2 separate regions of the Homo sapiens genome follow, and region 2 is linked to region 1. The links come from fine-mapping of genetic effects on gene expression. A gene starts in region 1. The other region holds a variant in brackets. All regions are shown on one strand. Distances are from middle to middle. Region 1 holds the start of GDF10 (growth differentiation factor 10). Region 2 has its middle 12 kb from the start of LINC03029.

Region 1 (5,370 bases):
AGTTACGTATCGCAGGCTGTGGGGATGGAGGCATTTGTTGTTCAGGAAGAGGTGCTGCCCCACTGAGGCAGCAGAAACCCACCACTGGGGAGCAGGCTGAGACTGGCATGTTCTCGGACCAGAGCTGAAGCCTCCCACATGGGTGGCATCATCCATGAGAGAAGGGTCCCTGCCCAAACTCATACCTCCTCAGACAGGTCACTGGATCAGGAAGTAGGCACATCTGAGGGCAGGCAAGAGGCTTGGCATGAAACACTCAGATGAATCAAGGGAGGAGAGGATCAAGCAACCTGCCTGGGCCCCCACTGTATGCAAAGCACAAAACCTGCTTAGCCCATTTAATCCTCACTTCTTCACTGTACTACAAGGAAACTGATGCTCAGAGAGGTAAACTAACCTGTGCCACTGCACACACCTGGTAGCTGGTACAGCTGGGATTCACACCCAAATGTGCCTCAGGCTTCCAAAGAAGAGGGATTTGTCAGACACTCCAGACTACCAGAATCCTGATTTCCCAGGCTTGTCTGTTTCACCCTACCCCTCCCAGACCCTGGTCATAGCTCTGAGGGAGATGACAGGGTGTGGGGAGTGACAGTGAGAACAGCAATGACCTGGCAGATGGGAGTTGCCAACCCCTGCCACTGTGAACAACCACTGAGTCTCAGTTTCCTTATCTTTAAAGTGGGAGTGCTGGATTTGAGATACTGTCTTCAGGTCCTTTTTGAGATTAATAACCTGAACTCCACTGCTACTTGTACTACCCCCTTTCTGTGAAAACAGAATGACACAAGAAGGCATCTCCATGCCTGGCTGCAGCAAGTAGATGGGCTCAGTGGGCAGGCTCACCCGTGTCGCAGCAGTGACCCTGCTGGCCTTGCTTCCTCAACTACAAGGCTTTGAGGATTGAGTTAATAGAGAAGCAAGGTCAAGTTTAAACCCACAGGAATACACAATACTTAGCACGATTATTTGTGCTCCCAGGGGAATCCCGTACATCAACACTTAATCTGGCCAGTGCTGGGCTCTGAGCTTGCACATATGACCTCATTTCATCTTCCCTTCAACTGCACAGGGGAGATATTGGCAAGCCTTGCCCATTTTATCGATGAATACACTCAAGTCCACCTAGCTTTAGTGATTTACCCAAGGTCATGTTCATGCCAGATGATTCTTAAATGGTTTAATTTAATAACGTTCCTCAAGAAATGGACCCCACATGGTGCAAGAAAGTTATGAGTGAGGATGGAGTTAGATCCAATTGGCCTGGAGCCCAGGGCCACTGACCTGGTGAGTCTGCTAAGTGGAGGAGGAGGGCATGGGGCCTCTTTGTGGCAGGTGCTCCCCAATCCATGGTTATGAGAGGCCACAGATGTTACCTTGAGTCACACAGCCAGTGACAGATCTGACCCCAGGCTGTCTAGCTCCACAGCTAGGCTTGTTTCCCTCTCCCTCAGGAGGGGAGCCTGTAGACTGCAGATTTTTCTCCTGTTGAATGGCCTCATCTTCTGCAGAGCTGCAGGAGACCCCCACCCACATTTTCTGGAACATTATTCTGCAACCAGGAGTAATCACCATGACAACCAGGGTCTTCTCACCACCCCTGTGGCCCTGGCTGCACCTCCTCTCTACCCAGGGCCTGCAAAGGTGGGCAGGCTGCTGAGGCAGGAGCCTGGAAGTGCTCTCAGAACAGGGCAGCATGGGCCTTTGCAAGTGCCCTCTGCCCAGCTCCATCCAAGGGGCTGAGGAAGTGGAAAGGTGGGACAGAGGCCGGAGATAGGCAGAGTGTTCCCACTGCCTAAGCCCCTGGGCCTTTCCTTAAACCCCTGTGGTCTGAACGCTTCATGCCAGTCCGTGGAAGTCCTCAATCCCGGGCAGCCAAGGCCCTTCTCAGTCCACTCTGCTTCCCTGGACACAGGAACCATAGCTGACGCCAGCTAGGGGCTCCTGCTTCCTGACAGGGCCCAGTGCCTGGAGCTTCTGCAGGGCTGCCTATGTTCACTGGCTGTGCCCTTCTCATTTGTAAAATGCCCACATAATTGACCCTATGACAGGGATACTCCCCTGGCCTATGTCCCCTCTTCCACTCTCTGTGCTTACAGCCTTGTGTATGGGGTAGTCTGTGTATGTCCAGCAATGTGGGAGCACCCCAGGGGCAGGACCTCTGTGCCACCTGCTGCCACTCTTGGTGCCCCACTGGAGGTTCAGGGCCTGGCATGGAGAGATCAGTGAATCATTAGTGAAAGAATGAATGAACCACTCACCCGTTGGCTAGAAGAGGAAAAGTAGAGGTGCACGGGTGGGGAGACAGAAAAGTGAGGAAGGTGGAGAATGAGGAGAAGGGGTCCTGGGGCACCCTCTACTTACCCAGCCTGGCCCTGAAGCTGCGGACCGTGTTGCCCCCTCCCGGCCGCGCGCCCTGCCGGCTGTACTTCTCATAGAGCCTGTGCATGTGGACAGCGACCATGTCCTGGGCGCTGGGGCCCAACGTGGCGGCCGCGTCCCCAGGGTGCCGCTGGAGATCCCTGTCCCCCTGCAGGCCGTCGGCGGCCGCGGGCAGTGCGGACCAGGCGGGGGCCCTGTGGCTGCCGGCCACATCCCGGAGCAACAGCAGAAACAACGGCAGCAGCAGCAGCAGCAGCTGGGGCCCGGGTCCCGGGCTGGTCCGAGCGGGGACATGAGCCATGGCGTGGTGAGGGCGGCAAAGGGCCGAAGTCCAGGAGGAGGAAGGCGAGCGCTGGCGCACCGGAGGCTGCGGACTGACCTCGCGGCAGTAGGGCGCGCGGGGAGAGCCCGGGCAGCAGGGCGCTGGATACCGAGGTCCGCGCGGGGCGAGGGGCTTAGCGGAGCAGGCACCCGGGCGCGCGGTCCGTGGGTACCGGCGGCCCGAGCCCCCGGCCAGCGGTCACAGCCGTCCGGAGCAGCGCAGAGCCGAGCCGAGCCCGAGTCGGCGCGCTGCCTTGGCGGACTCGCGCCGCGAAAGTTTGTAGCCCACTGCGCGCCCGGCCCGGCTGCTTCGAGGGGCGGGGCGGGGCGGCCGGCTGCGCCCTCGAGGGGACCCGGCTGCGCGCCCCGGACCTCTGGGGCTGCAGCTGACAGGGTCGTCCCTGGCCCGGCTGCCGTGTGCGTGCGCCCGTGTGTGGCAGCGTGCGCGCGCCGGGGTGTGCGCCCGCGAGTGTGGGGGGCGTGGGCGAGCGCGCTCCCCGCTCCCCAGCCGAGAGCCCGAGACCCAGCCCCGCAGCCGGCTCCTGTGTGTCGGCGCCGCAGCCTGCCCTGGCTGCGAGGGGGGCTGGGCGGCAGTTGGAGGGGGGCCTGCCTGCTGGGTTGCCCCTGCAATGGCATGCGATGGCTATGTGATTGCAAGATGACAGCTCCCCTGTGAGGACCAGAGAGGGGATATGTGTGCGCCCAGTTGCCTCGGAGTCAGCGTATGTCCAAAATGTGAGAGTGTGGGGAACAGAGATCCTCTCTGGGCTGACTCCGTAAAGAAAAGCCCTCACCCCAAAGCTCATGCCACCCAAGGGAACTGGAACAAGATCGTGATTAAAACTCAGAATTAGCTCATTAACCAGCCCTTTATTTGACGAGAGTAATTTCAGTTGTTGAAGAAACACATCAAAGGTCCTTATTAATCTTTGGACATGTGGCCTTCAGGATTGCAGGAATAAGACATGCTTTCAATTTGCCTTTAAAAACATTTCCAAAGCATCAGAGCAGGAAGAGAGAAAGCAGTGGCTTTCCTAAGAAGGATTCCCAGTGAAGTGAGGGTGTAGTGAGTCCCTGGCCCACTGCCCCTCAGCTTAACCCTGGGGCAGAAGGTCCTGATCTTTGTCTTGCCTCTAGCAGGATTTCTTCTCCATTGATAGAATTCAAGGGCTCTTATGAACTTGATGGGGAAAAAAATACATCTTTATTTTCATTAACTCTAACTGAAACTTAGCATTAACTAATGTTATAAATGCAAGCAACCAACCACAGTGGTATTAGTGACTTTGTCACCAATAGGCACCATCCACAGATATTTTCATATCACATGAGAGTGGTTGCGGATTCATCAAAGTATCATGTTTGCTCATTACCACTTCAGTTAGGCCTACTGCTAGTTAGTTAGCAAAAAGGAACATAGTTACTATGTTACAAAATTGTTTTTAAATATTTGTGATAACTCTATTCTAACGTAATTGTCTTCCTTTGTAACTCTGCATATTTTATTTTATGCATTTAAAAACATTCTTTTAAGAAGGGGTCCACTGGCTTCCCTAGACTTAGAAGGGGGCCCAAGACCCACCTAAAAAGTTTAAGGACCCTTGAGAGGGAAGGAAAGGACCACGTCAAGCCCATGTTCTTCCAGAAAGCTCCCAGATACAGTCTATGCTACATTTCAAAGGACTATTTGCAAACTTGTGAACAGGCTGTTCCCTTTACTTGGTAACTTTGGGCTCTGTGAGCCAAAATAGTTACTTTTCTTGGAGGGCTCACAATGCAATAATTGAAAAATTGCTGGAAAAGGCTTCTGTTGGTGTGTAAAACATGACCCATTTGTAATTTTTTAAAATCTTGCAGTGTCAAATTAGAGGCCATCCTATTAAGAGCTTCTGAACCTCAGACTTGTAGCTTTTGGAAAACCAGAGAAAAGCATTTTATTTGTTTTGAAAATTAGATCACAGTGTGTTCAACTTCCCATTAGGATAGCTCCCATTTGTTCTGAACCAGTTTTCAAAAATGGTTTGCCTGGAAGTGAGATGATCGGGTCTCAGCCTGGGACTTAGTGAATCTCTCCTTATAAATGATCCAGACCATCTTTCAGTGGTCCCTTCCCCCACTCCCACCCCCATTTCCCTCCTTCTCCATGTGCCCCTCACTTCCCCTCTGTCCCCCTCTCCCCTTCCCCCCCAGAATGCCTCTGACCTGCACCGGCTGGGGGTAACCTCTGCTCATGGGTAGTTTTGTGTCTGTTGGGGCCATACACAATCGAGGCCTGTTGAAAAGGAGGGTGAGTCCGCAGGAGGCCCGCACAAGCTGGGCTATTTGGAATCCGTGTCCATTAAAGCCTTCTGGCTCTCCTTAACTCATTCCCGCTCCATTCAAGCCAGCCTGAGGGTCAGGCTTTAGCCAGCACTAAAACCTGTAGGGTACAGATTCTCTGACATTGTTGGGAAAGAATTAAGGCATCAGCCAGGGATGGCTAATATTTCTTGCCTCATTTTATTGCTGAACAGCGGGACTGTAAAGCCTTGAACACGAGCACTGTGGCCCCCTTTCATGTAGCCGAGATGATGGGATAAAAATGTGTTTGGTGAAGCAATTCAGATTACCACTGGGTCACATCCTCGCTGGCTCTCAGCACGGCCCTTGAAACAGCATCACTATGAC
Region 2 (5,370 bases), 100 kb before region 1:
GCTTTCCCTGAGCTCATGCCTGTCTCAGGGCACTTAGACTTTGGAGAGCTCATAAAGGCCCAGCATGAACCCTCCATGGTGAAATGGGAGCATCCCATAGATGTGTGACTACAAATCAGGCCCTTCCAATGGGACCAGCTTTCTTAACCCTAACCCCTAACCCTTAACCCCTAACCCCTAACCCTAACCCTAATCCAAAGGCATGCAACTGAGATTCAGGGACAGGCAATGGGACTGGCATTCCTAATCTTAACTCTAATCCTAATCCTAAACCTAACCCTAAGGGCTTCCCTTGTGTTGGGCAACGTATCCTTCAAAAGGCAGGGCTGAGTTCGGAAAAGGCATCCTGCTAAGCCCCCAGCCCTGCACCCAGCACCCACAACTCCAGACCCCTGACCCTGACTCAATCTCCTCCACTCTCTTTATCCTACCAAAGTAGCAAATCTGCTTAATAAGAGTGCTATGGCTCCTTGACTTCCTGTGCTCCCGAAACCAAAAGACCAAAGGCTGAAAGAAGCGGCCCCAAAGGGTGTGCAGGCAGCTGAGCACGGCAGGCTGGCTCGGGGATGTGGCCTGTCAGCCTCTGTTAAAGCAGACAGGACTGGTTGGGCCAGGCAGAGCTGGCTCTGATGGCAGGACTGGGACAGGCTAATCCAATGTGACAGGCTGAGCCAGCACAGCAAGGCTGGGCCAAGCATGGACCCTGAAGGCTGGCTTCGCACTGCAGGAAGAGAGTCCCTGCCATGTGGGGGAGCTCTGAGAGCCTCAGCCCAGGAGGGAAGGAGGCCAGGCCCTGCCCAGCCCCTGCTGCCCCTCTGGGCCACCACCCAGAGTCCTTCCCCGTGAACTTGCTTTCTTCGCCCTCATGCCCACCTAGGTCTCCCTCTCCCAAACCCACAGCACATTATGCACAAACTCAAGCCTTCCCCCAGCTCAGGGAGCAGAAGCCCCGTCCCAGCTCTTCCTCAAAGCTGTAAGTGGGGCCCAGGCCCCCATCCAGTCCTCAGGATCCTCGGCTCTCTTCTGTGCTTCACCCTCTTAGTGCCCAGTTCCAGGCATTTGCATCAGAAGTGTTCTTACCTCCTGCCAATCAGGAGCTCTGCAGTGCCTCCTGCTGGGCCTGGGCACCCCTCTAGGCCAACTCCAGCTGCCTGAGCTTGCTCCTCCTGCCTTCCTCCAGCTCCCCAGCCTGGCCTGGGGCTCAGGACCCCACCCATGGTCTCCCCTGTCTGAGACCCACCAGGGGACCAAGCTCTTCTGCACTAAACTCTCCAGCACTCCCCCTTACCCTGACCCTGTCTCCCTCCCATAGAGAAGGCCAGAGCAGAGAGGGGCACACAGAGAGCAGCAGCCAGCACAGGCAGGTGTTCACAGGACACACACACCTGCCCACCAGCCCCCGCACTCTGGGGAAGGAGGTAGGGCAGAGGGAGGACAGGGGACAGAGAAGGTCAGGGAGGCCAAGAAATTCGGGAGCACAGGGGCTACAGGTAACAGTGCAACCAGGGGTCAGAGGGTTCAGGGGAACAGGCATTGGGGTCAGGGTGGGTACTGTGAGATGCCCTGAGCAGCCTGCCCTGTGTGCTGTCAGGCTCCCAACCAAGGTCTCAGGGAGCCCCACAGCTCTCTGGAGCTCCCTCTGGCCCAGCCTCTCAGGCCTCCGTTGGGGGCTCAAAGCAGCACTCCCCTGCCTGGGGTGAATGTGAGCTGTGGGACGATGCTGCCCTCCGTGGAGTAGGTGATGAAAGACAGCTACATTCTCAGGCTGGGGAGGAAGCACATGGCCCTGAGAAGCCAGAGGCACTGGCTGCACTGGACCCAAGCATAGCCAGGGCGGTGAGGCCCACTCCCCACCTCCCACCCCAACTCTTCCATCTTGGGGCCCCTTGCTGGACACAGGGAAGTGAGATAAATGCAGTGGACTCTGAGGCCTGTGGAGACGAGGGATCCACAAAAGAAAGTCAGGATGGCAACTTGCTGCATCCCCACAATCCCAACACACCCCAAAGAAACTCAAACTCACACACACCACGTACACATACACACACATGCACGCACACACATGCGCAAACATGCATGCATACCACACACACAGTCACACATGGACACACACACACACCCCCCATGCTGAACAAGTAGGGAGATGCACACACAGCCCTCCCAGCTGGCCTCCCTTCTACTGGAAAATTCTTTGCCTCTTCACCCCATTCCCTCCTCCCCCTCCTCTCCCTCATTCCTCCTTCATCCCAGAGGAGTGACTCATCCTATTGGCAGCCATGCACACAGCCTTCCTTTCCTCTCCCTGACCCTCCTTCCTGCCGGCTGGCCCTCAGTGGCCCTCAGCGACAGTGCTGCCATACATCCCCAGCGGAGCTCCCCATGGATCCTGCCCTTGTTGCCCATTCATTTTACCCACAGTCATCAGACTTTTCTTCCTTAAGTGCCACCTTGATCATCCCACTCCTCTGCTCAAGAGCCTTCTCTGGCTGTCTATGGCTCACAGCAGGAAATCTCAGCTCCTTGGCCTGGCATAATGAGCCCCTGTGGCTTTGGCCTCAAACTGACCTTCCCAGCCCTCTCCCAGCCCTGCCTGAGCTAACCTCATTAGCTCAGCAAGCTAAGCCAAGCAAGACCACTCACTCCACCACAGGTCCCCTGTGGTGGGAAATATTTCAAGTTTTGCAGGGAAAATGTGAGGCTTGTGAATTAAGTGTTTTGTCTTTTCCATCCTGCAAGACCCAGTTCAAAGACCCACATCCCTGGAAGCCACTCTTGACTTTGTCGTTAGGAGTTCCTGCTTTTTCCTTTAACCTTCCATGTGAGTTCTTTGTCCCTTTCCTTGAACCCTCG[G/T]CAGTGCATAACCCAGGGTTCCGGGACTGAGTCACTGATTTACCTACCTAATGTCCCTTCCCAGCCTGCGATGTCCCCAAGGGCAAACTTGGGGCTCAAGTATTCCCAGGGCTCACAGGCAGGAGCCAGCCAAGGCTGCCGAGATCCAATGGAACCAGTGAGCGCTGGCCTCATTCCTGTTTCAGAATGCCACTTTGTGCTCTGTGTCCCCCACCGAGGAACTCCCACGCCCACCCAATCTGATGGGTTGTGCTTTCTACCTGCCAGAGGAAAAGCTTCCTGCAGTGCAGGGAAGGCTGCAGCCTCACTTTACTTATTTCTCTGCAATCTCTTCTGTATTGCAGAGCCATAAAGGTCAAGGCAGGAATCCAGGCTGCTGGGCCTGAAAACAAAGGAGACCTGTGTTAGGGAGTTGAGGCGCATCTGTCTGGTGGGCAGGTGTCTGTCCACTCCAGCCTCCTAGCAGTCTCTTAACAAGCTCCCCCGACCCCAGCAGAGCTTTGGCTGGGGTACACCCCCAGCAACCACAGTGGATCATCTGGGTGGTGACTTTCATTAGGGTGACCACCCAGACCTGTCTGTCTGGGACCAACAGGCTTTCAGGGATGAGGTACATTTTTTGCTAATAGTTGACTATTACCATAGTCAGCTGACTAGGAGGATAGCTGACTGGTTACCTTAGCTGGGGGCCGTGTAGATAAGAACTGTGGGAGGATGTCCCAGCTGAAAAGCCCTGAGCAATTCTGATATGCTGGCTCTCCTTGCTCCCACTTACCCGGGGGGTTTATCCATCCCCAACCATCTGTGATTGGATAGGGCAGAGCTCTTGGGAATCACGGTCCATCAGACGCCCCTTGAGAACAACAGACCCAGACCTGGTCCATCATTCCTCTGTTGGACTCTTGGATTCTTGGACATCAGACCGGACCCTTCGGTTGGGGATCCTTCTGGCAGCCTGTGTGTGACCTGCTAACCCTATTCATGACACCTCCAGATCCTGCTCACTGTCCCACATTTCCCAGCACCCACAGAGGGAGGTAGTGACATTCCCTGTGGGAGCCTGGGCCTCAGGCAAGGGAGGATGTGCACTTTGGGCCATTTTGCCTCCCATATTTCTTATAAGCTTGCAAAGCCAAGCCGCTCTGGGCATGGAGAGCCTTCTCCAGCAGACACCACTGGGGAGGGAAGAAGCACACCTGGCCACTGCTGTCCTGGCGTCATCATTTCCCCAGCATCAGGGAGAGCCACATGCCCTTATTGTCCTGACTTCCAGATCTTACTGCTAATATTCTCCCACTTAGTCCCCAGACACAGAGTAAGGAGCTTGAAGGGGGTTGGAGCCTTGTGAGACTTCCATCTAGGTGGGGATCAATCACATCTGCCCTACCCGCCCAAGACGCAAAGGTCTTTGCAATCCCACAGCTCCATCGGTAGGTACAGCTTGGCAGAAATGGGAAATATTTCAAGTTTTGCAGGGAAAATGTGAGGCCTGTGAATTAAGTGTTTTGTCCAAGGTCCTGGAGATGGTATCAGTTAAAACTAAGGCTGGTGCCCTCATCTGAGTCCTTTCTCTGTATCTGTGTTGCTTTATGGTCTTTTGTGTATTATGTACTCAGGGGAGCCTACCAGGAGGCTCTTCTCCCCTCCAGCAATGACCATGTCTATAAATGTTTGCCTCCTGAACATCATGCTTGTATGTGGTAGTTCTCATGCATCCAAGAGCAGCCTTCTCCCCTCCACTGTTCCACTGCCTCCTCTAGCCTGCATCTAAATCTGCATACTGTATTATTTTCATTTTACAGATGAAAAACTTGAGGCTCTGAACGGTCAAGCAATTTGTCACAATTTCCATAGCTGTGAGGCGCGTCTGTCTGGTAGGCAGATGTCTGTTCTTCCTCACCTACTCCACTGGGACTGGGGTCAGGGGGGCTACTGACCCCACCATGGAGGATCCAGGCAGGGCCCTTCATAAGCTCTCCAAAGCCTGAGTGCCCTGAGACAAGCATGAGCTCAGAGAAAGCCTGGCCATACCCAGGGTACCAGCTAAGCAGCCCCTAGCCCCACAGCCTCCCTCCCACTGTGCTCACCAAGTGTGGGATCTGCACTCACAGCTTGCTGAGGCCCACACCCAGAGGCAGATGCACCAACAGAGGCAGGTAGTGACATTCCCTTGTGGGAACCTGGTCCTCCCTTGCCTGAGGATCAAGCTCCACAGGGAATGTCACTGCCTGCCTCCATTGGGGCAAAAGTAACTACAGTTTCAGACTGTGAATTTTAAATCATTATAACTAGGCTCAAAGACATCTTTATTAATCAAAACGGAAACCATTACAATCAACACATTTTTGCCAATGAGAAACAAATTTGTTTATTCCTGCAGTGTAAAAATCCATGCTTTGGGATTGGACAAACTCTTGGAAAGCATTTTCTGCATCCTGCTGGTTGTGAAATGATTTTCCCTGCAAAAAGTTGTCGAGATGCTCGAATAAGTGGTAGTTGGTTGGCAAGAAGTCAGGTGAA

Evidence for each region. PIP is the estimated chance that this variant, and not a neighbour inherited with it, causes the effect.
Region 2: its variant is fine-mapped to the expression of GDF10 in whole blood (INTERVAL, PIP 0.93).

Annotation. Positions count from the first base shown.
Region 1 is chr10:47,297,965-47,303,334 of GRCh38, reverse strand. GDF10 (growth differentiation factor 10) reads right to left here and starts at 3,138. Exons shown (of 3, transcript NM_004962.5): 1 at 2,365-3,138. The coding sequence starts at 2,683.
Region 2 is chr10:47,399,989-47,405,358 of GRCh38, reverse strand. No RefSeq gene overlaps it. Among named protein-coding and RNA genes, the nearest start is that of LINC03029, 12 kb to the left of the region's middle. The variant G/T (reference allele first, on the strand shown) is at 2,851.